4 linked regions of the Homo sapiens genome follow. The protein of the gene in region 4 interacts with the protein of the main gene of each other region in a pairwise test. Each region holds a gene or a part of one and is shown on either strand. Other genes may lie near its edges.

Region 1 (7,474 bases), about 91 Mb from region 4:
AAAAAGTCAAAGCAACATCTTTACTGATTTGTACTTATATTTCTAATTTGTACTTGCAGTGAGTGGGTGAGAACAACTTAAAAAAAATGAAATCCAAGTTCTGAGAGTCTTCCAAAATTGCTCCACAACGCTGGGCTATGGCGGAGGCTGTTTATTTTTTGAATCTGATAATGTTCTGCTTAATCTTCTGAAGTATTTGTATTGAGAGTATTGGTCCAGGAGATCAGATCTTCCACTTCCTCTTCCCTGGGCTCATCTGTGTCATTTTCATATAATGAAGTGTCACTCTTCCACCCCTCCTCTTCTGTTTCATAAATGTCTGTGATGCTATTTATTGCAGTTGGTGACTCAAGAAAAATTTCATCTGTGGTGGGAATTATAAAAAATAGAAATTTAATAGACATAATAAGAAAAACAATAAAAAGAGAAGTGTTCCTGCATTTGTAGGATAATGCCAAAGACCATCTGAATGAATGTGAGCAACCTTTTATACACTTTCTAAACTTCATGTTTTGTAAGTAACTTTATTTGTCAAAAATCATTCTTTCCATTTTGCTCAATCTTTTGATGCTTTGTTAGTTCATTCATTTAGCATATATATTTACTGGGTCTCTGCTAAGGGCCAGTTGATGTGCAAGGGAAAAGCTGCTTTGGGAGCACAGGGAGGGAATCACTGTGTCTAAGTGAAAACTGAGTCGGACTTTGAAACAGGAAGACCAGTTTGTTAGACAGAGAAGGGAGGTCAGAACATGTTAGATAGAAGAAACAGCACACATCGTATAAGCACAAAGGTATGAGAGGACTTGACAGGGTTAGGGGTGATCAGAATGGATTCTCCCGCGCTTCCACTGTGCCAGGTGCGGTGCTAACCCGTCGACAGCTATAATATTATTTAACTCAGACACAACCCTTGTGATGGGCAGGTATTATTATTCTTATTTTACAGATGAGGAAACTGAGGCTGAGCAACCTATAGTAACTTGATCAAAGATATCCAGCTAATAACAAGACTCGTCCCAGATCTGTCTATCCAAAAACACAATGTTATAGTATACAGAAAGTTTCGTGGAGCTGGAAGGGAGGCTGAAGCCAGATCAGGAAAGCCTCATATGTCATGCAAAGGACTTTCATCTTTATCTTATAGGCCTTGTAAACAGGGAAATAAACTGATTATACTTTTCAAAAGGAGAATATAGATATAATGTCTATATTTCTAGATGTATATTTCTACACAGCATGGGGACCTTGCTTTCTGGGGATGAACTCTAGCTGGTACTATTTATGTTCTGTTAACTCTAAAATCTCACTGCATTCTCTTCCCTTTTTCCTAGTTGTCACCGGATTCACTGCTGATTATGGGTTCCAGGACAAATTTTGTTTGCCTCATATGTTTATTTCCCTCACACATGAAATAAACCCTGTAATATTTGCTGTCTTCTAATGTTATAGACATGGGCTACAAGTGACTTGTTTTCCTTCTGTCTTTGGTTTATAGAAAGATACACAGACAGACCGGGCATGGTGGCTTACACCTGTAATCCCAGCATTTTGGGAAGCCAAGGCAGGTGGATCCCTTGAGGTCACGGGTTCGAGACCAGCCTGCCCAACATGGTGAAACCCTGTCTCTACTAAAATACAAAAATTAGCCGGGTGTGGTGGCAGGAGCCTGTAATCTCAGCTGCTCTGGAGGCTGAGGCAGGAGACTCACTTGAACCCGGAAGGCAGAGGTTGCAGTGAGCTGAGATTGACCCACTGCACTCCAGCCTGGGTGACAGAGTGAGACTCCCTCTCAAAACAAAACAAAGAGAGAAAGATACACAGAGAGATGTGAGTTTACACAGTCACCATTATCCTATGGTTATCCTGAGGCCCACAGTGATTTTTAATTTTTTGTACTTTCGGTACTAATATTTAGTTGTAATTAATTTAAAACTAAATTCTGTCTGTGCCTTGAGAAAAGCATCTATTTATTTTCCATGAACATATTATTGATGGACTAACTCCAGTTCTTTCTAACCATGCTTGGGCCTTTCTGACTCCACATGCTTTTGATTACAAGAAATATAAAGCCAAGTCAACCCAGTTTAAACAATAGGAGAGTGTTTTATCTCACATAAGAGAAAAGCCAGAGTGGAGAGCAAGACTGAATGTTTTCAGTGACTCCACAATGTCACGAAGGACACAGCTCTTCTTACTGCTTGCTTTGCTAACTGAGGTGTTGTCTTCATCTTCAGGTGCATAGCAAGAGAGCTACGGCCATTCTAGTAACCACACCGGACACAGCAACATCCAGGGGAAAAAGCGATCTTCTCACCAAGATCTCATTTTTAAGAGTGGACGGCAAAACCATCCCCTGAAGTGCCCAGCATATTTCCCCTCAAGCAGGATCCTGTCACATGCCATTTCTTTTATTTTAATTTAATTTAATTTTTTTTTTGAGGCAGGGTTTCACTCCCATTGTCCAGGCTGGAGTGCGGTGGCGTGCTTTCAGCTCACTGCAACCTCTGCCTCCTGGGATCAAGTGATTCTCTCACCTCAGCCTCCCAAGTAACTGGGACTATAGGCATTCACCACCATGCCCAGCTAATTTTTTTTTTAGTAGGGATGGGGTTTTACCATGTTGGCCAGGCTGGTCTCAAACTCCTGACCTCAGGTGATCCACCCACCTTGGCCTCCCAAAGTGTTGGGATTACAGGCGTGAGCCACTGCGCCCCGCCCCATTTCTAAACTAGTTACTGGGAAGGGAAATGGGATCACCATGATTGGCTGACGTGAGTTGCTGGCGTGGAATGAAAGTTGGGAATCAACCACCTTGACTATTTGCCTTCTTAGTTCCTGCCCTGTTAAAAACTCCCAGGAAGCATAAAAAGAAACCTGGCTAGATCAGCAGACTATAATGCAAAATAAATATAGAAATGTTTCTTTAGAACATAAAAAACAATATTATTTTGAATTTCTCTCCTCCAGGAAATCTTAAGCATTATAAATCTCTCTGAGACACCTTGGATTTGGTGGTTGGAATCAGTAATAAAGGTGGGGATTTTGTTACTATGTTAACAAAATAAGTTATGGAAGCACAAATTCTAACTGCCTTATATTTTCCATGCCTTTCTTGGGTTGGATCATGGAAACTCTGCCTCTGATAATTTATTTTTAATCTGAAAATAGTTTAGCTAATAAAGATATTAAAATCTGTGCTGACTGATGGGCTTTGATGATTGCCAAATGGTTTATTTCTATTCAGTCCTGTTTTCAGCCTGGGTTCAGTTAGGAAAACAGAGCCACTACAAGTAATACAAGAGTGAGAGTCTAACACAGGAATGTGGGATTATCCAGCTGTGGGAGGACCCAGGGGAGTGAAGATCTGGAAGCTACAGCTGGAGAATTGAAAAAAGAGTCGTGACCCACTTTAGTCTGATGCACTGACACGAGTGGGAAACCAGGAGCTCATAGAGTACAAGAGGCTGCACACATTTAGCCACCCAAAGTGGGACAAAAACAATGAGTTCATGGGGATATTTGTGCAGCCACCATGTCTGTGAAGTGAGGCTGTGGAGAGATGTGTGAAAATGCCATATCTGAGGAACCCGCCATGCCTGATATGAACAACTTCCCAAGCATAATGTCCTCAACTTCCCTCCCACCTGCCAAATCTCTGGTGAGTTTCTCCCACTGGCAAACTATGACATGCCATCCTTCTCTGCAAAAGAGGGACACACAATTCTTTCCTTTTCTGAGTCATACTTCCCTTTGATATCCTATATAAGTTCATTCTCGCTACATAATAACTCTCTTGCTACATAATAAACAACCACAAAATCTTAGTGACATACAGCAATAAGTATTTGTTTTGGTCACATGTCAGCAGGTCAATAGGTGGTTGGCTTCTTTGGCTGGGGAATGGCTGGGAAACGTGGGTGGGCAAGCTCAGATCTATGCCTTGAATCTTTCTCTGTGATCAGAGGGCCAGTCCAGGCACGCTCTGGTGATGATGGCAGAAGAGAAAAAGAGCAAGCCAAATCATGCAAACCCTTTCCAAACCCTGGGGGCACACTGCACCCACTAATATTCCACTGATGAAAACAGGTCACAGGGAAAAGCTCAAAGTCAAGGCACAAGGAAACATGTTTTGTTCATGTAGGTGGAGCAGGAATTAATATTTCTGAACAATAATCAAATTTACCACAACCTCTCAGGTATAGTTTCTTCCAGAGTAGACAGAAAGGAGTCTATTCCATGATTAAAGAGGACAAGGCTCAGCACTGGAGCGCTAACCAGTTTCTGGACATTAAACTTAAAATGTTGTCTCTTCCAACTTGCCTTTTCCCCACTTATCATGGGTTTTCACCTTTTTTTCCCCCAAATCACAAGGCAGATAAAAACATGACAATTTTACTTCATCCTACTATTTACTTACTCATTGATAGCTACTGTATGCCAACCACTGTGCTGTGGAAGACTGGGAGGTGAGCAGTCCCTTCCCTCAAGAATCTCACTCTTTTTCAAAGGAGACAGGCAGTAAAGAGAGTAATAACACAGCATGTGTGCCGGACAGACTCCAAGATGGCCCCTAGAATCCCTGCATCCTGGTATTTACACCTGAGTGTAAACTCCTCCTTTCTGAGTGTGGATAGGACCCATGACTTCTAACCAATAAAATAGGATGCAAGTGATAAGGTCTCACTCACATGATTATGTTACATCACATATGACTCCATCTTGCTATCAGACTTGCTCTAAAGACTCTTGCTGGATAAAGTAGGAGGCCAGGCTGGGAGAGCCCATATGGCAAGGAACTGTGTGCAGCCCTCAGCAGCTGAGGGAGGCCTCCCACATATACCCAGCCAGAAGCCAGGGCCCTCATTCCTAAAGACAGAAGAAAATGGATTCTGTCGACAACCTCACTGGGCTGGGAAGCAGATTCCTCCCCCATTCAAACCACTAGGATGAGAATGCAGCCCAGCCAAAGCCTTGATTGCAGCTTTCTGAGACCTTAAGCAGAGGATTCAGCTAAGCTGTGCCTGTACTCCAGGCCCACAGAAACAGTAAAATAATAAATGTGTGTTGTTTTAAACCATTCAATGTGTGCTAATTTGTGACACAGCAATAGAAAACAAATAGAGCATGATACGGCTATGGTAGAAGTGCTATGATAACCCACAAAGAAAGTTTCCTAAAAAAGGTAATACCCGAACTGAATCTCAAAGGATGCATAGGCATTAGAAAGTAAAGAAGGGGAGAGAAGAGCATTTAGAGTAGGGGTATGAGAAAACACAGTGTACTGCTCAAATTTTTTTATGAAATGAGGTAGGGAACAAACAATCATGACCCACTAGCTTAGTGTAGCATTTAGGTTGTGAAGGGGAGAGGGAGGGAATGTCACTGCAAAGACAGAGACAAGTATTAGAGCATTAAGGATTTTCTGTGTCAAAGAGTCTAAATTTTATCCTGAAGGAAAATGGGAAACAAAGTATTTTAGACCTGGTAAAAACATAAGCAGAGCTGAGCTATAGAGACATAGCTTTGTCACCAGTCTGACAAAGCATAGACAAAAATTACTGTAATCACATCAACTTAACCAACTGATCTCTTCCACTGGTGAACATGGTGGGGATGTTGAAAGACAGAGATTGCAGAGGGGAGTAGGGAAATCATGGAGAAAGCAAAGAGCAAGGCTGGAGAAGGCAACATTTCCTACCTCACAGGTACCCTGAAATCTGGAAGAAGGGAGAGTTGAATGGAGAAGGCTGAGGCTGATAATACAGAGGAGGAAATCTGCGTGGCACACCAAACAATTAGGAGGGAGAGAGGTGGATACTGAGCAGGGAAAAGAAACTTGGAGATACGGGGGCAGGGCCCTTGGAGAATCACTGAATGAAGGTGATTGCCTGTGCCTGGCATTTATATGCTGTTATGTTTAGTGGCCAGGTGACAGGAAAAAACAGTAACTATTTTTTTTTGTACTTTTCAGTTCACAAAGAAATTGTCTATACATGGAGTCACTTAGTCATAAGAATCCTGTGAGTAAGGGCAGATTTTTAGCAACTAGGATTTGTTGAACATCTTCCACATACACAGTACTAGCTAAGGATGAAAAAAACTAAGTTCAGAGGTTGAGTGACCTTTCCATAGTAGCACAGAACTGGAATCTGAACCTAAGTTCTCTATCCCCAAATGTCATGCTTTCCCCTCTATACCAGCTGACTTCCATGGTAAGTTACCAGCTCTCCCGGCTGAAGACTCACTCTCAACCTATCCCAACAAGTAAATGGTAATTTTTAAAAGAGCACGAAAAACAACTCAGCATTGTTTCTTTCTTTTCAACCATATTGCATATACCTTTGAATATACAATGAGTTTTAGGGATCAGTTTATTAGTGCTCTGTGTGTTTTGGCTGCTTTTTCATATTTTGAAACTTAGCCTTAAAATTTCAAATTGTATATCAACCTATTAAAGGGTAGTAAGCTTGAAAATATAAGTAACTCAATTCTGTCAAAGTTCCAATTCCTATGTGACTAATTTACCAAATTAATTTGGAAAGTCAGAAAAAGTTAAAGCAACCTTAAAAGGAGAACACAAGGATTAGCCCTCATATATTCCAACTTACTTAAATGGAAAAAAGTTTAAAGTTATGCATATTATGCATAATATGTTATTTATAAAAGCAAAACAAATAGAGTGAATCGATTTACTTAGAGTTGGGCAGAGCTTAATTTCTTCCATTGAGTGAGTGACTTCATGAGGCATTCTTTTTCTAGCAAGCCAACACTTGATAACGGAATACCTAGAAAGAGAAAAAGAAAACTAAATTCCCAAATGAATTTTGGTAAGGGTATATTTACTTCTGAGAAAAATAAGTGAAACAAATGAAATGAAACATAAAAGTAGAACAATAGGCTTTGAATATGGAACCATTCTGAGTCTTGACTAATTTAATGGTAAAGTAAAATTATTTCAATATGTGCTTTCCAACAGAATAGAAGTTGGAAAAGCAAATGAATATGACATGTTTACTACTTATGTCATAGTAAAAAACATCATAGTAAAAGTAATAAAAACATCATGTGGTATAGCAAGGTATATTAGTTTCCTTGGGCCACCTTAACAAATGACCACAAACTTGGTGACTTAAAATAACAGAAATGTATTCTCTCATAGTTCTGGAAGCTAGATGTTGGGGATCAAGGTGGCAGCAGGGCCTCCCTCCCTCGGAAAGCCCTAGGGAAGAATCTTCTATTGCCTCTTCCTAGCTTCTGCTGGCTGTCAGCAATCCTTTACATTGTATGGCTTATAGCTGCATCACTCCAGTCTCTGCTTCCAATGTCACATGACCTTTTCCGTGTGGGTCTCTGTAGTTCTGCTCTCTTATAAGGACAACAGTCATTGGACTCAGGGTCCACCTAAATCTAGTATAGCCTCATCTTAACTAATTACTATTTATATCTGCAAAGACCCTATTTTGAAATAAGGTCA
Region 2 (5,042 bases), on a different chromosome or scaffold from region 4:
AGGCGCCTGTAATCCCAGCTACTTGGAAGGCTTGAGACAGGAGAATCGCTTGAACCCAGGAGGCGGAGGTTGCAGTGAGCTGAGATCGTGCCATTGCACTCCAGCCTGGGTGACGAGCAAAACTCAAAAAAACAAATAAATAATAAAAAATAAAAACTCGGGGCCCACCATGGTGACGAATGTCTTTAGTCCCAGCTACTCAGGAGGCTGAGGTGGGAGGATCGCTAGAGCCCAGGAGTTTGAGGATTGCTGGAGCCCAGGAAGTCAAGGCTGCAGTTAGCTGTGATGGTGCCGCTGCACTCCAGCCTGGGCAACAGCAAAGACCCTGTCTCCAAAAAGAAAAACTGAAAAAACAGGAACTTACTTTGTTGTCTAGGCTGAACCCAAACTCTTGGGCTCAAGTGATCCTCACACCTTGGCTTCCTGAGTAGCTGGGACTATTAGTTTATGCCACCAGGCTTAGCAACCCTACCATCATTCTTATGTTTGGTTATTTCCCACATAATCTTTACTTGATAGACCTTTCACTTCACATTCAGGAAAATATGATGGATCTAGTTTGCTGGTGATAGGCCAAATGACCTGTAACCTGTTGGTATATTTGGAGGGTGGTGGAGGTGAATGGTGTCAAAAATAAAGGTGTGGTTGCTCTTCATGGATCTGCCATACAGTGGGAAAGGTATCTTTTTAGTTTGTGTGACTGGCTGACATACCCCATACTAATCTTGAAGTCCCTTCCCATTGGTTTTCTTTTTGCTTAATTTTTGGAATACTCTGGCATCTGTTACATTATAGGAGAGACATCCAGGAGACAGCAAAAACTATAATGAATGTATCCGGCACGAGACCATCAGAGTTGCAGTCTGTGACATGATGGAAGGAAAGTGTCCCTGTCCTGAACCCCTACGGTATGTGTCAAGCGGGCTTGCTTGGTATTCCTTTCGGGCATTTGGGTAGTTGGCATCTTTGGGGCAGAGTACAGTGTTGGGTACCAGAGGGAGATAGAGAAGAAGGAAAGATGTGGTTCCTGCTTTTAAAGAACAAGTGGCTGAGGGTTACCCAAGAGGAAGTTCAGAGAGCTACTCTGTTGTTGGAGAATGCCATGCCTTTGGGAGAGGCAGTCCACACGCTCAGGGAGCTTCCAGTTTGATGAAGGCTTGGACGTACTTTTTTCCAGCCAAATGTGTAGAGTACTTCATAATAAGACTCATTTCTTAGTGCTGAAGTTATTTTTAAGTGCCAAAACTGGATGAGCAACGTCAGGGTTAAATAAATAAACTTCTAGGAGAATTTTGAGTAAGGTTTGGGATTGGGGATGGCTGATGAAAAGCAATGGAGGTGGAGCAAGTCATGAGTTGAAGTTGGGATTCAAATGGTGAGTATTGGCTTGGTGGTGGCTCACGCCTGTAATCCTAGTACTTTGGGAGGCTGAGGCGGGAGGATCACTTGAGCCCAAGAGTTCGAGACCAGCCTGGGCAACACAGGGAGACCCCATCTCTACAGAAATTTTAAAATTAGCCAGGTGTGATGGCACGCTCCTGCAGTCACAGCCAGTCAGGAGGCTGAGGTGGGAGGATTGCTTGAGCCTAAGAGGTTGAGGCTGCAGTGAGCTGTGATGACACCACTGCACTCCAGCCTGGGTAACACAGCAAGACCCTGCCTCAAAAAGAAAACTAATGGTGAATATTACAGTCACACTCATAATTCCTGATGTGTAGGGGAAGTCAACCACGGGCAGTTAGGTGTTCCTTTTTCCAAAAGGAACTGTAATCCCAGCACTTTGGGAGGCCAAGGAAGGCAGATCACCAGGTCAGGAGTTCAAGACCAGCCTGACCAACATGGTGAAACCACATCTTTACTAAAAATACAAAAATTACCCGGGTGTGGTGGCACGCACCTGTAATCCCAGCTACTCAGGAGGCTGAAGCATGAGAATCACTTGAACCTGGGAGGCGGAGGTTGCAGTGAGCCGAGATTGCGCCACTGTATTCCAGCCTGGGCAAAAGAGCGAGACTCAGTCTCAAAAAAATAAAAAATAAATAAAATGAAAAGATCTTTGTAGAAAACAGATCTGGACTTGGGAATGGTAGGTATTTAATTTGGCATTAAGGTTAGGTAAAGAGGCCAGGTGTGGTGGCTTGCGCCTGTAGTCCTAGCACTTTGGGAGGCCGACGCAGGCAGATCAGTTGAGGTCAGGAGTTCCTGACCAGCCTGGGCAACATGGTGAAACCCCGTCTCTACTAAAAACAAAAATTAGCCAGGCGTGGTGGCATATGCCTGTAATCCCAGCTTCTCAGGAGGCTGAGGCAGGAGAATTGCATGAATCCGGGAGGCAGAGGTCACAGTGAGCTGAGGTTGCACCACTGCACTCCAACATGGGCTACAGAGCAAGACTCCATCTGAAAAAAAAAAAAGGTTAGGTAAGGAAGGGGTGACCTGTACCCCTGGGTTTCTCACTTACACTTTTCTGCTTGTTTTCCAGAGGGGTGATGGAGAAGTCCTTTCTGGAGTATTACGACTTCTACGAGGTGGCCTGCAAAGATCGCCTGCACCTTCAAGGCCAAACTATGCAGGTAATACAACCCCTGCTGCTAATTGCAGAAGCCCTACAGCTGGCCATGTAAAAGCCCCCCACAAGCGTGGCATCGACAGCTGTCATAGAATGACACAGCTAAGCCTGGGTTCAGTGGCTCATGCCTGTAATCCCAGCACTTTGGGAGGCCAAGGCGGGCGGATCACGAGGTCGGGAAATTGAGACCATCCTGGCTAACACGGTGAAACCCCGTCTCTACTAAAAATACAAAAAATTAGCCGGGCATCGTGGCGTGTACCTGTAGTCCCATCTACTCAGGAGGCTGAGGCAGGAGAATCACTTGAACCCAGGAGGCAGAAGTTGCAGTGAGCTGAAATTGTGCCACTGCACTTCAGCCTGGACAACAGACCGAGACTCTGTCTCAAAAAAAAAAAAAAAAAAAAAAAAAAATAGCCAGGCGCGGTGGCTCACGCCTGTAATCCCAGCACTTTGGGAGGCTGAGGTGGGCAGATCACCTGAGGTCGGGAGTGTGAGACCAGCCTGGCCAACATGATGAAACCCCGCCTCTACTAAAAACACAAAAAATTGGCTCAGCGTGGTAGCATGTGCCTATAATCCCGGCTACTTGGGAGGCTGAGGCAGGAGAATCGCTTGAACCTGGGAGGCCGAGGTTGCAGTGAGCTGAGTGCACTCCAGTCTGGGCAACAAGAGCGAAACTCGGTCTCAAAAAAAAAAGCTAAAAGCAACCTATATCATTTGAGGGACTGAGAGCCAGAGAGGAGACTGATTTTCATGAAGTCATAGGGAACTCTTTACTTTCCTTGGTCAGTAGCCTCTTTTTTTTTTTTTTTTAAAGGCAGGTTCTCACTCTGTTACTCAGGCTGGAGTGCAGTAGCTGGGTCACAGCTCACTGCAACTCCAAACTCCCAAGCTCAAGCAGTCCTCCCACCTCAGCCTCCCAAGCTGGGACTTACAGGTGTGCACCACCACAGCTAGTTTTTGTTTTGTTTTGTTTTTTGAGACAGAGTCTTGCTCTGTTGCTCAGGCTAGAGCAATCTCAGCTCATTGCAACTTCAGCCTCCCAAGTAGTTGGGATTACAGGCATACGCCATCATGCCCAGCTAATTTTTTGTGTTTTTAGTAGAGACGGGGTTTCACCATGTTGGCCAGGCTAGTCTTGAACTCCTCACCTCAAGTGATCTACCTCCCTCGGCCTCCCAAAGTGCTGGGATTACAGGCCCTGTTTTGTTTTGTTTGGTTGTAGAGATAGGGTCCCACTCTATTGCCCAGGCAACTCCTGGGTTCAGGTGATCCTCCTCCCTTAGCCTCCAAACTGGGAGGCTGAGATTATTACAGGTGTGAGCCACTGCACCCAGCCCATAGTGTTTTGAAGCTAAGATGCGTTCAGCCCTCCCAGAATCTTAGGGATTATATGAATCCTCTATTTAAATTCTGTTCCCAGCCCTGAGGGTTGATCACAGAAACAGTAGCTTAGAGAAACAACATACCTGTAGTGTCACATGTTGAAAGATTCCTATTCAAAGATGATAACCATTGTTCATTCTTTGCCTCTACTGGGAAAAGTGTGCTTTTGCTTCCCATAAGAACTCAAAATTTAGGCTTGTTTTAAGGAAGGAGGCTATCATTGACCAAATTGTAGATAGACAGCCAGGTGCGGTGGCTTATGCCTATAATCCCAGCACTTTGGGAGGCAGAGGTGGACAGATCTCTTGAGGCCAGGAGTCCAAGACCAGCCTGGCCAACATGGTGAAACCCCATCTCTACTAAAAATACAAAAATTAGCCAGGCATGATGGCTCATGCCTGTAATCTCAGCTACTTGGGAAGCTGAGGGATGAGAAATGCTTGAACCTGGGAGGCAGAGGTTGCAGTAAACTGAGATTGCACTACTGCACTCCAGCCTGGGCAACAGAACAAGATTCTGTCTCAAAAAAAAAAAAAAAAAAAAGACAAAAATTATAGATAGACTAATGTAAACCACCTGGTTGGTAAGAGAATGAGAATTCTCCTGTCCTGGAGAATCAGTTCTTGGGTGTTTGGATCATCTTACTGGTGGTCTTGCTTAGAAATGGGATACTCGTGGGGCCTGGCGCAATGGCTCATGCCTGTGATCCCAGTACTTTGGTAGGCCGAGGCAGACAGATCACTTGAGATCAGGAGTTTGAGACCAGCCTGGCCAACACAGTGAAATCCTGCCTCTACTAAAAATACAAAAATTAGCCAGATGTAGTGGTGCGTGCCTGTGGTCCCAGCTACTTAGGAGACTGAGGCACAAGAATTTTGCTTGAACCTGGGAGGTGAAGGTTGCAGTGACCCGAGATCACGTTGCACTCTAGCCTTGGCGATGGAGCCAGACTCCACCTCAAAAAAAAAAAAAAAAAGAAAGAAAAAGAAATGGGAGACTTGGATAATTGACTAAGATTTCTTAAGGCTCTCTCCAGCTCTCGTACTATGTCTGTTCACCCACCCCAACACCAACAGCGTAGGAG
Region 3 (8,351 bases), on a different chromosome or scaffold from region 4:
CTATTAACTATACTTACTGGTCTAGGTAAGGCCAGGTTTGCTCCATACCAGTGATAAAGTGCTCTCCACACAGGTTCTGGGACCATTTCATAGTCTCTTCCATGAATCAGCTGTGGAGTTCGTTTTAATCGTCCTCCTTCTAGTGTTAATGATGTAGCCTGAGAAAGAATAGAATGACAATGTTGACTTTCAATATTACAAAAGTTTTTGGGTCTCAGCAATACCTAGAAACAGGAAAACAAACTCATATATCACCACCCAGTTTCATGTTGCTGGAAAAACTTAATTTTTTTTTTTTTTTTTTTTTTGAGACGGGGTCTTGTTCCGTCACCCAGGCTGGAGTACAGTGGCGCGATCTTCGCTTGCTGCAGCCTCCGCCTCCCGGGTTCCAGTGATTCTCCTGCCTCAGCCTCCCGAGTATCTGGGATTACAGGCACACGTCACCATGCCCGGCTAATTTTTGTATTTTTAGTAGAGACGGGGTTTCACCATGTTGGCCAGGCTGGTCTCAAACTCCTAACCTCAGGTGATCTGCCCACCTCAGCCTCCCAAAGTGCTAGGATTACAGGCATGAGCCACCACGTCCAGCAAAAAAACTGAATTTTTAATGAGAGATTTTTATTTTTGACTTTCAAAATAAACTATGTAAGAAATGAAACTCAAAGCATATCATTTGGAAAAATCACTAAAGCACTTGAAATAACTTCACAGATTTCTTTCAAACAATAAAAAATACTAGTTTGGAAAAAAAAATTCATACATAGCGTATGTGAAACAACATTTTCAGAATAGCTGTCCTAAGTAAGAATAACAATAATGCCAAGGGTTACTAAACTACTTCTATGTAAGTTCTAAATCATAAATATTCTCACAGAAATGTACTATACAAAGAGATGTCCATCTATAATACAGTAATTAAATGAACCATCAATGTTTTGCTATGTGCTAAAACCTCTGAAATGAAATTTATTAATAGCTTGCAAGAGAATAATTTTAAGTTTAGATGTAAAATTACTTACCTTTACTGGTTCTTGAGTTACTAATGGCTGATTATCAATAGCCCCTGGTTTCTGAGGGTTAAGGTGCAACAAAATATTCCCATTGGCTCCCAGCAAACACTGGTTGTTATTGTCAGAAGTGTTATGTTGTCGAGCAAAGCAAACATCTGCCCCTGGTGTGGCAGAATACAGAAAGCCTATAAAAAAAAAAGAGGATAGAATCTCTTATTTTTAGTTATTATACATAAACAGGCTTGAGGATATGAACTCAATGCCCATGTATTGTATTACTCTGTTGACATGTCAGTACAGATTAAGATTCTGGTAATTCTGTAGAAGACAGGAAATGTTATCCTTCTCTGAACAATACATGGCATGGTACTAAAAATAAGAGCTTTTAAAATTATTACCAAATGAACATTTGGCCACCCTCCTAGAATATCTAATAATTCATAATGAGAATTATATGTCCTCCGACTGGAAGGGAAGAGCTGGGCTAAGTGGCTGGGCTTCTACATAGCATCCTTTAATTATTTTCCTCAAACTAGAAAAATATTCCAAATGTTCTTGGTAGATAATGGTGATATGAAGTCACTAAATTAAAAGAAAACTAAAACAAGAACTCCAACAAAAGAGTAATGGGGGCTAGATCCTATTGTATCTATGAACTCAATGTCCACAAGTTCTTTTGAAAGAAATACATGATCTTTACAATACGAAAATATGCACAGAAGATGATTAACCATGGCTTAGAGTTGTGAGCCTCAGTGGTATTTTAAGCCATTTCAACTCTCAACTACATGCTAATCTTTGGTAAACAATCTAGCAGTCATCACTTTGTAACCTTCTGCCTGTGGTATGCAGCCTTTGGGTGTCACAAGTTATATGGTAAGCACATACCAAACAGGATCTTTAGATGGGGTTAAGAAATAATCCTCATGTTAAAGCTGATGACAGCACTTCTAGGACTGCTAAGTGATCTTTGTAATACCAGAAAGGGAGGGAAGAAGCAGATTCTACAAGGAGCTTTGTGAAGAAAATGCTAGCTCTGTCCAATTTGCTTACACCTTCCACAGAAAAGGAAAAGAACATCTTGGAAGAAATAATAACACACGCCAGGAGGAATGGCTCATGCCTGTAATCTCAGCACTTTGGGAGGCCAAGGCTGGAGGACTGCTTGAAGCCAGAAGACTGCAACCAGCACAGGCAACATGAGACCTCGTCTCTACAAAACAATTAAAAAATTAGCTGTGTGTGGCAGTGTACACCTGTAGTCCCAGCTACCAGGTAGGCTAAGACAGGAGGATCATTTGAGCCCAGGAACTGGAGGTTACAGTGAGCTATGATCATGCCATTGCACTACAGCCTGGGCAACAGAGTGACACCCTGTCTCTTTAAGTAAATAAATAAATAACAATAGGGTAAGATTGAGGGTTCTGCTACTGTACCAGAATAACAGCAATCAACTCAATTCAGCTGGGCCATAGAAATACCACAGCATCTTCCTTGTAGGTGTGGAAACATGAAGTTTTAGGTAAGTACCAAGGCCTAAAGGGAATTATGGGAGGCATCTGAATTCTTTCTCAGTATTTTAACAAAATAATCTCCATATTTTGGCCTGAAATATACATAGAATCTGATGTGGGGTGCATTTAATTTAATTATGTTTATGGCTAGAGAGAGTCCTGGAGATGACTATCTTTGAAAATTTAAATTTACTGACTAAATAATTTAATAGCAATAGGGAAAGATGGGGCTTGATTGATGAAAATAGTGAAAATAGCCGCATGTGATGGCTCATGCCTGTAATCCCAGCACTTTGAGAGGCTGAGGCCAGAGGACTGCTTGAGCCTGGGAGTTTGAGACCAGCCTGGGCAACATGGCAAAACCCTATCCCTAAAATAAAAACACACAAAAAATGGCTGGGCATGGTGGCGCGTGCCTGTAGTCCCAGCTTCTTAGGAGGCTGAGGTGGGAGAATTGCTTGGGGCCAGGAGGCAGAGGCTGCAGTAAGCCGTGATTATGCCACTGTACTCCAGCCTGGGTGACAGAGCGAGATCCTGTCTCAAAAGAAAATAGTGAAAATATTTCCATATTGAGAGATTTAATGAAGTATAATATGGAAAAGAGGTTTTCTTTGTAAAAATACTAATATATTCAAGAATTTTACAATTGACCATTTCATTCAAAACTTATTTCTGTTAATGGAAGCCTGATCTCCTATTACCATATTCACTACAGCCTCTGTCAAATTAGACTGCCTTAATAACTATCCATGGGGAGGCCAGGCATGGTGGCTCACGCCTGTAATCCCAGCACTTTGGGAGGCCGAGGCAGGCAGATCACGAGGTTGGGAGTTCAAGACCAGCCTGGCCAACATAGTGAAACCCCATCTCTACTAAAAAAATACAAAAATTAGCCAGGCGTGGTGGCGGGTGCCTGTAATCGCAGCTACTCAGGAGGCTGAGGCAGGACAATCGCTTGAACCCAGAAGGTGGAGGTTGCAGTGAGCAGAGATCGCGCCACTGCGCTCCAGCCTGGGCAAAATGTGAAACTCAGTCTCAAAAAAAAAAAAAAAAAAGAAAAGAAAAGAAAGACCTATCCAGGGGGAATAAACCAATAAACCTCAGGGGAATAGGTCATATTTACCGCTGCCAGCAGTTTCTGAGGCTTCAGATGCAGTAGAAATGTTGTCTGAAAATTTCTCTTCTGTAGTATTCACGTAACTGAGGCTGCTTCCAATTCTATCTTCGACCTGCTCCATAGGATGGGCTGCAGTTCCAAATGAGTATTTTCCTCCATTCAAAACAGATGATGGCTCAATTACCACAGGGTTGGCATCCTAAAATCAGGAAATCAGAGAATAAGAAGCAAAGTTTATAATCTGACAACTATGTAGTCTTCAGAAACAAATCTCACAATTATCTATTTTTTTAAGTCTCCTGTGGTTGGCCACAGACATTTAAAAACATTCTAATACATAGCTATATTTTAATCTCTTTCAGGAGGAAAAGTATGTATATAGATAAAATTGGCAAGGTAGACAAAACAGACTGTGAAGGATTTTGTGCCACATAAAGTAATTTACACTCTATTCTGTTGGCAGCCATTTTTTTAACATTAAAAGTAAATAAAGCTTAAATTTTTTTCTTTTCTTCCTTATTTCCCATAGTACATGAATGTATATAATTTTTTTATTATTAAAGATTACATGGTCAATGTAGAAAATATAGAAAACATGAAGAAAATATCACATGTACTCAGATTCCATCATTTAGCAATAACTGTGTTTTAGTTCTTATGACTGAAAAATATGTATATATGTAAAAGATGAGTGGTGTATGTACATAGAGTGAAGGGCAATGCTATGACTTATACCTATGTGACCTTCTACAATAACTGAACACACCTTTAATCCCAGCACTTTGGGAGACCGAGGCAGATGGATCACTTGAGGTCAGGAGGCCAAAATGGTGAAATCCCATCTCTACTAAAAATACAAAAATTAGCTGGGGGTGGTGGAGGGCTCCTGTAATCCCAGCTACTCGGGAGGCTGAGGCAAGAGAATCACTTGAACCCGGGAGGTTGCAGTAAGCTGAGATTGCGCCACTGTACTCCAGCCTAGGCAACAGAGTGAGACTCTGTCTCAAAAAAAAAAAAAAAAAAAAAAATCATATTTTTTTCTTTCACCAAACATTGTATTGTTTATATAGTGCTAATATGCTAATCTAACATTTCATATTTTCTCTATTTCTCTTTTTAACAAAGAGAGAACAATCCTAAATAGCAGAGTCTTCAAAAGGCAACACTATTAGCTGGAATTTAATAATATTATTGCCTTCTATTTCTGGCAAGCGACACTAGTTTTCTTTTCTTTTTTTCTTTTTTTTTTTTTTTTGAGACGGAGTCTTACTCTGTCACCCAGGCTAGAGTGCAGTGGCGTGATCTCGGGTCACTGCAACCTCCACCTCCCAGGTTCAGGAGATTCTCCTGCCTCAGCCTCCCGAGTAACTGGAATTACAGGTGCATGCCACCAAGCCCAGATAATTTTTGTAGTTTTCATAGAGATAGGGTTTCACCATACTGGCCAGGCTGGTCTTGAATTCCTGACCTCAGGTTATCTGCCCGCCTGGGCCTCCCAAAGTGCTGGAATTACAGGCGTGAGCCACCATGCCCATTCAGTTTTTCTTTTCTTTTTTTTTTTTTTGAGACAGGGTCTCGCTATGTTGGCTAGGTCAGTCTTGAACTCCCGGCCTCAAGCAATACTCCTGCCTGGGCCTCCCAAAGGGCTAGGATTAAAGGCGTGAGCCACTGTGCCCAGTGGACATAAGTTTTCTACTTAAAGTAGTGATATAAAGTTTCCTTTGAAAATATGATTAAATAACTAATTAATCACAAACAGTTATAAATTTCTTTGTTCCTTGTCTGTTACCACTGCTTCACTTTAGTAGCCAAAAAATTTTTTTAAATTTTAAGTAAAAATGGCATAATTATTTATGTAAGTTAACTGTATGGCATTACATGAGAAAAATGGTGACCATAGTTTAAAAAAATGATTAAGAAGTAGGAATCTATATTACATATGAATTTTGGACCATCAATTTTTAAAATTTAGATGGTTCACCAAAGTAGTCAAAATTCTTTTTTTTTTTTTGAGACAGAGTCAAGCTCTGTCGCCCAGGCTGGAGGTCAGTGGTGCAGTCTCGGCTCACAGCAACCTCCGCCTCTAGCTTCAAATGATTCTCCTGCCTCAGCCTCCTGAGTAGCTGGAACTACAGGCACCTGCCACCACACACAGCTAATTTATGTATTTTTAATAGAGACAGGGTTTCACCATGCTGGCCTCAAACTCCTGAACACAAGTGATCCACCTGCCTTGGCCTCCCAGTGTGCTGGGATTACAGGCGTGACCCACTGTGCCTGGCCTAGAAACCAAAATCCTGTAGACAAGACAGTAGAACCAAAATGATCTATGTCAAAAAAGAAGTATAAATTAGTCCTAAGTGTTAATTTTCTTAAAGATAATATCAAGCTTCTCACAGCTTTTCTAATATGGAATTCATACCAACACAAAATACATGACATTTAAATTAGGTTTCTTTTTTCTTTTTCTTTTTTTTTTTTTTTTTAATTAAAACAAGTTTTGGCCAGGGATGGTGGCTCATGTCTGTAATCCCTGCACTTTGGGAGCCAAGGTGGCTGGATCACTTGAGCTCAGGAGAGTTGGAGACCAGCCCGAGCAACGTGGATAGATCCCGTCTTTACAAAAAAATATTAAAAAAAAATAGTGGGGCATGGTGGTGTGCACCTTTAGTCCCCAGTAACTTGAGAGGCTGAGGTGGGAGGATGGCCTCAACCCAGGGGGTGGAGGTTGAAGTGAGTTGAGATCATGCCACTGCACTCCAGCCAGAGCAACAGAGCGAGACTCTTTGTTTTTTTTGTTTTTGTTTTTTTTTTTGGTAGAAATGGAGTCTTACTGTATTGCCCAGGCTGGTCTCAAACTCTAGCCTCAGGTAATCCTCCTGCCTCAGTCACCCAAAGTGGTGGGATTACAGGTGTGAGCCACCTCACCTGGTTAAATTAGGTTTCAAAAGAAAATTTTCCATAAACATAAATGCCTTATTATTTAAATCAATTCAACTTTTTTTTTTCACTTATGCTTTTTGATTTTTTTAGTCTGGAGTATAGCAAAGGCTCTTTTTTTAATACAGGGTCTTGCTCAGTCGCCTATAGCTCACTATACCCTTGAACTCCTGAGCTCAAGTGATCCTTCCACCTCAGCTAGGACCACAGGCATGCATCACCATGCCCAACTAATTTTTAAAGTTTTCATAGAGATGGGGTCTCAATATGTTACCCAGACTGGTCTCAAACTCCTGGAGGATCCAAACAATCCTCCTGCCTTGGCCTCCCAAAGTACTAGGATTACAGGCATGAGTCACCCGGCCAAAGGCATTTTTTCATTTTTAAAGTTCTCTATGTGATCTCACTACATATGCAGCCAGAATTAATAACTATTGCCCTAGTGAGGATTATAGTCTCATGCATTTGTTTTTATAATGTGCTCCAGATGTTAAGAGCTTAGAAATTGACTTGTTATTAAATCTGCTACCTGCTCTGGAACTTGTGTTTTAGAAGAAGATTTAGATTTATTTAGTTTTCAGGTCATTTGCTTCCTGCCCATAAAGATGGAGCAAGACAGACAGCAAAACCATTTTGAAAGAGTAACAGCGCCACCTTTGAGAAAAATTAAAGTCTTCCAAGTCACTTTGTTTTCCTCCAGAAAAATCACTTTAGTTTTGCTATAAGTGATCTTAAATGATGTTTCAATAACCATCACATTTTTGGCAAGGTAATCCGTTTATAAATTTATACTCACTTCTATATTCCATTTATATAAAGTTGATGCATTACAAATTACTTTTTTTTTCCTTCTTTTTTTGAGACAGAGTCTCGCTTTGTTGCCCAGGCTGGAGTGCAGTGGTGCAATGTTGGGTCACTGCAACCTCTGCCTCCTGGGTTCAAGCAATTCTCCTGCCTCAGCCTCCGGAGTAGCTGGGATTACAGGCACGCACCACTGCGCCTGGCTAATTTTTGTATTTCTGGTGGAGACAGGGTTTCGCCACGTTGGCCAGGCTGGTCTTGAACCCCTGACCTCAGGTGATCCACCTGCCTTGGCCTCCCAAAGTGCTGGGGTTACAGGCGTGAGTCACTGCGCCCGACCACAAATTACTTTCTAAAAAATTTGTAGTAATATATTTTGAGGAAGATTGGGTCTATTTGAGCAAACAATTTTCTTCAAGTTTTCCTCTAAGATGGGCATGTAAGAGAATTTCAAGGAGTAATATTTGGAATTGTATCTTAAATGTTTTAACATGTTTGAAAGTCTTACATGGTGCCTATGTTTCTAAAGAAAATGTAAATGAAACCATTCCTGTAATAATGCTTCTCATTCTGAAGAGCTCAGTCCATAGGTTAAATCTATATATATCACTGGCAAGAAAACAGGATAATAAAAATATTACCAGGCATTAAATTTGCTAGGCTAAATTTTATAATAATTTGTGAACAGGATGATTCTAATAACTTCTCAGAGATTGCAACATTTGCCTCTAGCAACTGCGGTTCTACCACATGCTTTTAACATGGTACAGTGAGTAATAACCTTTAGACTTGGAGAATATGGGCTTTTCTTTGCTTCTCTTCCAATGCTCCAAACAAACTAGACTGGTCTGTCTTCTCATTGTCTTCGGCTTTCTTTTCTATTACAGGAACCTGATGCTCTCACTGTTCTCCACTGCCTGAAACTGTCAGCACAACTCAGGTTCCTTCTTCCCCTTCCTACACGCTTAT
Region 4 (7,909 bases):
GGCCATCCCTCCCTGTCAGCCCTGCGTTTGAGCTTGCCCCCGACCCCAGCAGGATCTTGCCCATGCCAATGGTTAGGAAAGCGAAGGGTGGCGACGCCTCCACTGTGGCATCCTCGGCACCGCTGTCGTGCCCGCTGTCCGGGTCGTACCTGCAGAAGCGGGTGTTGGGGACGAGATTGTTGAGGGATGGAGTGACGGATGAGGTACCAGAGGGAGACGCTGGAAGGATGGAATGTTAAGGAGCAAGAGGTTGAAGGGATGGATTTTGGGTGTTGAGAAGAAAACGCTGAAGAGGCAGGGGTTAGAGTATAGGGTCAGGGGTTTGGGTTTGGTGGAAAGAGAGCACTGAGAGGAAAGCACATTGGCAAGAGAGGGGCAGGCGGACAGGAAAGACATGGCATTGGTATAGCCCGCGGAAAGGCATTGAGAAAAATGGTCTTGGGGAAATCATGCTGGGGAGATGGTTCTGAGGATTAGAGGACATTGGAAGAATCCGAGATTAGTGACTAAGAAGAGAAAGGATGTTGGGAAGGTGGGTGTCGGGAGAGAGATGAGGGTGGATTGGTGTCACAAATGAAGGGTGTTAGAGGTATGCGGGGTTGGGGACAATGGGGTTTAGGAGGGGTTTGTGTTGGGGAGAAAGCATTTTGAAGAAATAAGGTGTTGGGGGATAGAGTGCTGGGGAGAAGGCTTAGGATGCAAAGCATTAGTGGGAGGGTGTTAAATAGGGAGTTGGGGCCAGGCACAGTGGCTCACGCCTGTAATCCCAGCACTTTGGGAGGCCAAGGTGGGCGGATCACGAGGTCAGGAGATTGAGACCATCCTGGCTAACACGGTGAAAGCCCGTCTCTACTAAAAATACAAAAAATTAGCTGGGCATGGTGGCGGGTGCCTGTAGTCCCAGCTACTCGGGAGGCTGAGGCAGGAGAATGGTGTGAACCCGGGAGGTGGAGCTTGCAGTGAGCGGAGATCGCGCCGCTAGACTCCAGCCTGAGCGACAGAGCGAGACTCCATTTCAAAAAAAAAAAAAAACAGGGAGTTGGGGAGAGGAGGGTTATGGAGGTGGGATGTTTAAGGGAAGAATTTTTTTTTTTTTTTTTTTGAGAAGGAGTTTTGCTTTTGTCGCCCAGGCTGCAGTGCAATGACACAATCTTGGCTCACCGCAACCTCCACCTCCCGGGTTCAAGTGATTCTCCTGCCTCAGCCTCACGAGTAGCCGGGGTTACAGGCATGCGCTACCACGCCCAGCTATTTTTTTTGTATTTTTAGTAGAGATGGGGTCACTCCATGTTGGTCAAGCTGGTCTCGAACTCTCGACCTCCAGTGATTTGCCTGCCTCAGCCTCCCAAAGTGCTGGGATTACAGGCGTGAGCCACCGCATCCGGCTAAGGGAAGAATTTTAAGATACGGGTGAAGGAGGTCTTGGAGAGCAAAGGTTTTATGGAGAAGGTATGTTGGAAATGGAGTGTTAGGAAGAAAGGACACAGATGCTTGGAGAGATGGTGTGTTGATCCAGAGTGACAGATGGTTGGAAGGAAGCAGAGATGGCTCCCTCTTCTATCATCCCTTTCCCTGACCACACGACATGCTCTGAAAATCAGTCCTCAAAAGCCCTTTTGCTGAGCCCATGCGTCTCCTGGACACAGGCCTCCCAGCCTGGCTTCCAGGCTCCTACTACTTCCTCCTAATCCCCTCCCAGCCCCACCCTAGCAAGTCTGTGCTCCACTTGCCACCCCTTCTGTGCCCCTCACTCCCACCAGGACCCCCACACCCCATCCCTTCCAGAGGGGTCTGACCTGGGGCTGATCACATCGGGGGCACCCTGGAAACTTTCTTGAAGCTTGCTCTCCAGCCCGACGCCCACCTTGACCAAGTAGGAGGCTGGGTCTACGGCGCAGGCCCAGTAGCTGCGGCCCTGGGTCACAGCCACGTCGCCCAGGACCACATCCACACTCAGGTGGCAGCCGGTCAGCAGCCGGTCAGCAGCCAGCAGCAGGGGCAGCCCTGGAACACTCCGTACTGCTCGCTGGTCCTTGCTGATAGCCAGCCGCTCTCGGCTTGCGCCCCAGCGGCTATCGAGGAAGAAGTGCAGGACTGGAAGGAGGGAGAGGGTTGAGATGGAGCAAGAACTTCAGGGACAAACACTGGCACTGGGGGCTGTGAGACTGCAGAACAGGGAACGCGTTGCAAGGGGGTTCAGTCACCAGGAACAGGCAGGGGGTTCAGGAGAACAGGACATGGGAAACTGGAATGGGGGGCATGAGGAAAAAAGAAGGGGGCATTCCAAATGGGCGTGGGACCCCAGAGAGTTTTTGTGATGGCAGTGGGCACAGAAGTCAGTGCTCCGGACCTGGCTGACTCATGGGGCTCCCTCGAACCCCTTACTTGTGGCCAGCCCCATGGACAGTTCCCACTATTCTGTTCCACCTGGTGACATTCCCATCACCATCAATCTGTGCCTTCCAGCCCATACTCTGGGTTCACACCTGGCCCTTATACCCAGCCCCTATTTGGGTGGCAAGGCTTCCCTCTTATGCCCACCCCCTGGAGTCCGAACTATTTTCTAGTCACTTTAGTAACATTCTTGAGCCCTAACCATGAGCCGGACACTGTACTCAGACTCCCATTGATCGTCTCAAACCAGTTGAATTCTTGCAACTCTATGAGGTAAGCATTATCATTTTTTAAAAATATATATATGTTTTTGAGACGGAGTCTCACACTGTTCCCCAGGCTGGAGTGCAGTGGCGCAATCTTGGCTCACTGCAACCCCTGCCTCCCAGGTTCAAGCCATTCTCCTGCCTCAGCCTTCCAAGTAGCTGGGATTACAGGCGCCTGCAACCACACCCAGCTAATTATTTTCATTTTCATTTTTAGTAGAGACGGGGTTTCACTATGTTGGCCAGGCTGGTCTTGAACGCCTGACCTCGTGATCCATCCACCTCGGCCTCCCAAAGTGCTGGGATTACAGGCGTGAGCCACTGTGCCCAGCCAAAAATAATTTATTTTTTACGTATTTTATTTACTTATTTATTGAGACAGAGTTTCACTCTTGTTGCTCAGGCTGAAGTGCAATGGCGCGATCTCGGCTCACCGCAACCTCCGCCTCCTGGGTTCAAGCAATTCTCCTGCCTCAGCCTCCCAAGTAGCTGGGATTACAGGCATGCGCCACCACACCCAGCTAATGTTGTATTTTTAGTAGAGATGGGGTTTCTCCATGTTGGTCAGGCTGGTCTCAAACTCCCAACCTCAGGGGATCCACCCACCTTGGCCTCCCAAAGTGCTGGGATTACAGGTGTGAGCCACCTTGCCTGGCCTTTATTTATTTATTTATTTATTTATTTTTCCGAGACGTCGGAGTCTTGCTCTGTTGTCCAGGCTGGAGTCCAGTGGCGCGATCTCAGCTCACTGCAACCTCCGCCTCCCAGGTTCAAGCGATTCTCCTACCTCAGCCTCCCGAGTAGCTGGAATTGTAGGCACGCACCACCACGCCTGGCTAAGTTTTGTATTCCTAGTAGAGACGGGGTTTCACCATGTTGGCCAGGCTGGTCTCAAACTCTTGACCTTGTGATCCGCCCGCCTCGGCCTCCCAAAGTGCTGGGATTACAGGCATGAGCTACCTCGCCTGGCCTATTTATTTTTTTAGAGATCGGGTCTCGCTGTGTTGGCCAGGTTGGTCTTGAACTCCTGGCCTCAAGCAATCCTCCCTCCTTGGCCTCCCAAAGTGCTAGGATTACAGGCATGAGCCGCTGCACCTGGCCAGTATTATCGTTATCCCTACAGAAAAGGACTCTGAAGTTCAGAGAGGGTAAAAACTTGCCAGAAGCCACCCACACAGTTGGCAAGAGGCAGAGCTGGGATTTGAACCCAAGCAGTCTAGCTCCAGAGCTAGTGTGTGTGAGACCTACTATGTTATATGGCCTCTCTAGCGGCCACCGGAACCAACCGTCAGGGCCTAGGCCCTGGCATACCCCATGCCCTTTGCACGACCACCTGTGCCTGCCCACTCACCAGGTGCCGGGGGCGTGTGCAGGTGCACATCTTCACTGTATTCGCCGTAGCCGGCCTTGTTGCAGCCGCGGACACGCAGCACATACACAGAGCCCGTGTCGGGGTTCTCAAGCAGGGCACTGGTGCCCCTCACCTCCTCCCGCCGCTGCCAGCGGGTGGGGCCTGGCTGAGCAGGCACATCCGTGCGCCGGAACTCAACGGTATAGTGCCAGGCAGGTGGTGAATGGGGGGGCAGCCGCCAGCACAGGAAGATCTGATCATAGGCAAAGGTGCGCTGGGTGTCAATGACGGGGGCCTCAGGCACTGTTGGAAGAGACAGCGGGTGTCAGTCAGGGCCTGGCCACTGGCCTGGCATGGAGGGCAGGGGCAGGCAGGAAAAGGGAAAGCAGCGGGAGCCGGGGGGGTGAGTGTGGGTGAGAGGGAGCTGGGGAAGGGCTCATCTGGGAACTGGGCACAGGAGGGGTAGGGCAGGGCCCAAGAGAGAACGAGGCAGGAAAGCGCTGGGCTGGGGGTCAGGACACCTGTGTGCTAGTTCTGGGCTGCTGCTACCTCACTCTGGCCTGGAATAAGTCACTTCCCCTTTCTGGGCCTCAGTTTCCTCCCCTGTCAAATGAGGGTATCAGATCAGGTAAGTTCTGGGGGCCCTTGCAGCTCAGTTATTCTATGAATTAAGAGGAGCCCCAGGGAGGGGCAGGCAAAGGCCACTGGAGCCCACAGGCAAGAGGGCGCTGAGCAGGAAGGAAGGGGACCAGGCTCAGAAGAGAGATTTAGGAGGCAGCGAGGTGGAAAGTGGGGACAACAGAGGGACAGCAAAAGCTGAGGGCAGGGGTTGGAGGTCAAGGGAAAGGAAGTGCAAGGCCAGAGGGCAAGGGTCACAAGGACAAAAGGTCAGAAGGGCCAGGATTACGCAAGCGCCTGAAGAAGGCAGAAGGGAGACAGGGCATTGGTCCAGTGGGAGGACCACGAGGTCGGGGCAAGGCAGGAAAGAGAAGGAAGCAATGAGTGGTTGGCTGAGATGCGTGGGAGCAGCGGGGTGGGAAGGGGGCCCGGCGGCGGGCAGGGCCCCCGGGGCAGGGCCGCTGACTTGCCTGGGGTGCTCCGGAGCAGAGTCCGCGGTGGCCACAGCCTACAAACAAAGAGAGGGAGAAGCAGCGCTGAGCGCGGTAGGACGGTGTGGCAGGGTGGGCTGGGTGGGAGGAATGGCTGGCCAGGCCGGGCAGGAGGCCGGGGAGGTCCCCGGTAGGCACTGCCCCCCGGGCCCGCTGCTGGGGAGGAAGGGAAGAAGGCTCTGGTTGGGCATGGGGCCTGGCCATCTCCTTACCTCGCAGGAAGTTAAGCTCTGTCAGCAGCTTCATCTCACGTCCCACGTCGAGCTGGCAATGGCGGAAGGAGGAGCTGGCAGCTGGCCGGAATGTCTGGAGGGCTTCAGTGGCTCGGGCAATCCTGGGATGGGGGCAAGAAAGGGTCAGGCACTGCCATGTGGGCAGTCTCCCTTCCCCTCAATTCTGTCTTGCTTGCCCCTAGAGCCTTGGGAACTGCTTTGGGAGCTGGTATCAGTTTGGCCTCATGAGAATCCTTAGAATGCCAGTTCTCCACCTGGCAGTACTGTAGACATTGTCCTAGATGTTGGTCACATCCATGATGTCCCTGCCCCCCTAGGAGCCCATGCCCCTGAGTACCTGTTGTGCAGCTGCTTGGCGGCTTGCACAAAGCAAGGCTGGTCTGTTTCCTTAAGTACTTCCTGGGCATAGCCCACCAGACCTGAGCCATCCAGCAGGCTCCGGTGCTCCTGGATCTGGGCGCTGAGACGGGCCAGCCGCTCCTGCTGGCATTCTTCAATGGCCTGAAGCAGTGATGCCCGCTTCTCCTCCAGCACAGCCCCCAGCCCCCGCACCAGCTGCGACACCTCCTCCTTGGCCTGCTGACCACTCACCTGCCCAGGGAGCAACACCCAAAGGATGCGTGACTTACTATCTTCTTTTTGGAGGCAGCACTTGTGCTGGCCTCCTTGGATGCCACAGCATGGCTAAGGTCACAAGGGATCTGGGGAAATCCTACTCACCCATTCCTACAGGGCCTGGGCTCATGGCTGCAAAGGCACCTCTAGATGGACTCAACTCCTGGTCATTTGTGCCAACCTTCCCGGAACCCCACATCATAATCTCTGCCCCTTAGTGACTCATCCAAATGAACGAGGCCATGGCTACCCTAATGTCCACTTGGACTGCACTAATTAATGTCCACTGGCATCTATGCCATCCTTAGTTGTCCATCCCCATGTCAGCCAGCTCAAGCAACCTGGCAGAAGGTATCAGTCATCACCTCACTCTAGCACTGGGAATGCGTGACATCCTCGGTAGGCACCTGAGCCTGAGAGCATCTGAGCTACGCGTGGGGTTTTTTGAGCTATGCATGGGGTTTTTCGAGCACTCTCCTGAGCTATAGCCACCCTGCCCCCTCCTGCAGCCCAGGTACAGCCTGGCCTGGGGCACTGGTGTTCCTGCAAACCTGGTTTAACCAGAACCTGGACACCTCACGGGCTTCCTGAGCTAGCAACAAGGTGATTGGGTCATGATCACCCACACCCCCTTCCTGCCCCTACTCCCAGGCAGGGCCCAGGGCCTACCTCTGTGCCCTCCCTCACCTCGGTGTGCCTCACGGCCTCCTCCAGCTCACAGATCTGGGTCTGTACCGTGTCCTGGTTTCCCAGGATGTATGTCAGGCTCTTTGTCAGCTTGTCCTGAGGGGGAAGAAAGAGGTGGGCATCAAGCCCAGCTCTGCAGAAGCCAGCAGTTGGGAGGAGGTGCAAGAGGGTAAGAGTGTGAGTTAGCACTAGGGTTGGATAAGGGGGGTCCTTACCTTGAGGGCCTGGTAGGCACTGAGCACTGGTGTGATCTTGTGCCCGCTGTGGGTGCGCCGCACCCGGCAGAGTTGACATACCAGGCGTTGGCATGTCTTGCAGTAGTGGGTCACCTCTTCCTTGTGGTCTGGGCACATAAGGCCCTAGGGACACAAAGAACAATGTGATGGTCAGACAATGGTGTGGGTAAGGGTGCTATGCTACCACTACAGCAGTTTGGTGCCCTCCTCCACTGGCAAGATGGGAGTGGAGACATCCGCTGGTGGTGCTCCACAGTGCCACCTGGTGGTACATACTGGCATCAAAGAGCCTTTCCTGCAGTCTCCGGGCGGTGCCCATTTCACCAGCATTGCACCTCCCTTCATCTCTCTCATTGGGATATATGGTAATAACAGTAATAATGATGCCAATTAATCTTTGCCTGGTAGTTAATAATTAACCTTGTCCATCTTGTTTACTGCTGTATCTCCAACACCTAGAATAGCACCATGCACATAGGTGCTCAATAAATATTTGTTCAGTGAGTGAATGCACACAGACCTTTTCAGTGTGCAGGTAACACTTTTTAGTGAACAAACATTATCTCACACCATCCTCTCAGCAACCCTTTAGGTATGGACATTGCAGGGCAGATACTACCATCCCCCTACAGGGATGTAAATGAGATGGAGGCCCAAAGTTGTTGAATGATTTGTCCAGTGACTTTGTGACAGATTACAGAGATAGGTGCTTAGCATTGGAAAACCCTTCCCACTTCCTTTTGGAAACCCACAATGCCAGGCACCCCCACCCACCTGCAGCAGCATGTCCCTCCCTCCCCAGGCCTTGGAAGGGCTGGCTCACCTTGGGTCGGAAGGAGAGGGTAGGCAGGGTGGGCTCATGCTGGGCCTTCTGGGTGCCCCAGGGGTGGAAGAGCTTGAAGCACTCATTGCAGAAGGTGGCGCGGCACTCTGTGCAGCCCTTGGTGGCCTCTAGTGGTGGGGGCTTGCACAACTGGCACAGGATGGCACCTCCCACACTCACACTCTGGCGGTACCG

What was found.
Region 1: the proteins of TRIM46 (region 4) and UBE2U interact in a two-hybrid assay, tested with the Homo sapiens proteins (one large-scale study listed by BioGRID and IntAct).
Region 2: the proteins of TRIM46 (region 4) and UBE2Z interact in a two-hybrid assay, tested with the Homo sapiens proteins (one large-scale study listed by BioGRID and IntAct).
Region 3: the proteins of TRIM46 (region 4) and USP32 interact in a two-hybrid assay, tested with the Homo sapiens proteins (one large-scale study listed by BioGRID).

What each region holds. Positions count from the first base shown.
Region 1 is NC_000001.11:64,259,914-64,267,387, reverse strand, and holds the end of UBE2U (ubiquitin-conjugating enzyme E2 U), read right to left. Parts: intron 6,786-7,474; coding exon 6,694-6,785; intron 365-6,693; coding exon 180-364; 3' UTR 20-179; downstream 1-19. UniProt on the Homo sapiens protein: Catalyzes the covalent attachment of ubiquitin to other proteins.
Region 2 is NC_000017.11:48,920,365-48,925,406, forward strand, and holds part of UBE2Z (ubiquitin-conjugating enzyme E2 Z), read left to right. Parts: intron 1-795; coding exon 796-908; intron 909-2,482; coding exon 2,483-2,573; intron 2,574-5,042. UniProt on the Homo sapiens protein: Catalyzes the covalent attachment of ubiquitin to other proteins. Specific substrate for UBA6, not charged with ubiquitin by UBE1. May be involved in apoptosis regulation.
Region 3 is NC_000017.11:60,222,392-60,230,742, forward strand, and holds part of USP32 (ubiquitin carboxyl-terminal hydrolase 32), read right to left. Parts: intron 3,841-8,351; coding exon 3,648-3,840; intron 1,196-3,647; coding exon 1,020-1,195; intron 159-1,019; coding exon 18-158; intron 1-17. UniProt on the Homo sapiens protein: Deubiquitinase that can remove conjugated ubiquitin from target proteins, such as RAB7A and LAMTOR1.
Region 4 is NC_000001.11:155,176,037-155,183,945, reverse strand, and holds part of TRIM46 (tripartite motif-containing protein 46), read right to left. Parts: coding exon 7,715-7,909; intron 7,015-7,714; coding exon 6,871-7,014; intron 6,752-6,870; coding exon 6,656-6,751; intron 5,945-6,655; coding exon 5,691-5,944; intron 5,455-5,690; coding exon 5,333-5,454; intron 5,138-5,332; exon of another isoform or gene 5,100-5,137; intron 4,315-5,099; coding exon 4,012-4,314; intron 3,512-4,011; coding exon of another isoform or gene 3,444-3,511; exon of another isoform or gene 3,267-3,443; intron 2,095-3,266; coding exon 1,797-2,094; intron 150-1,796; coding exon 1-149.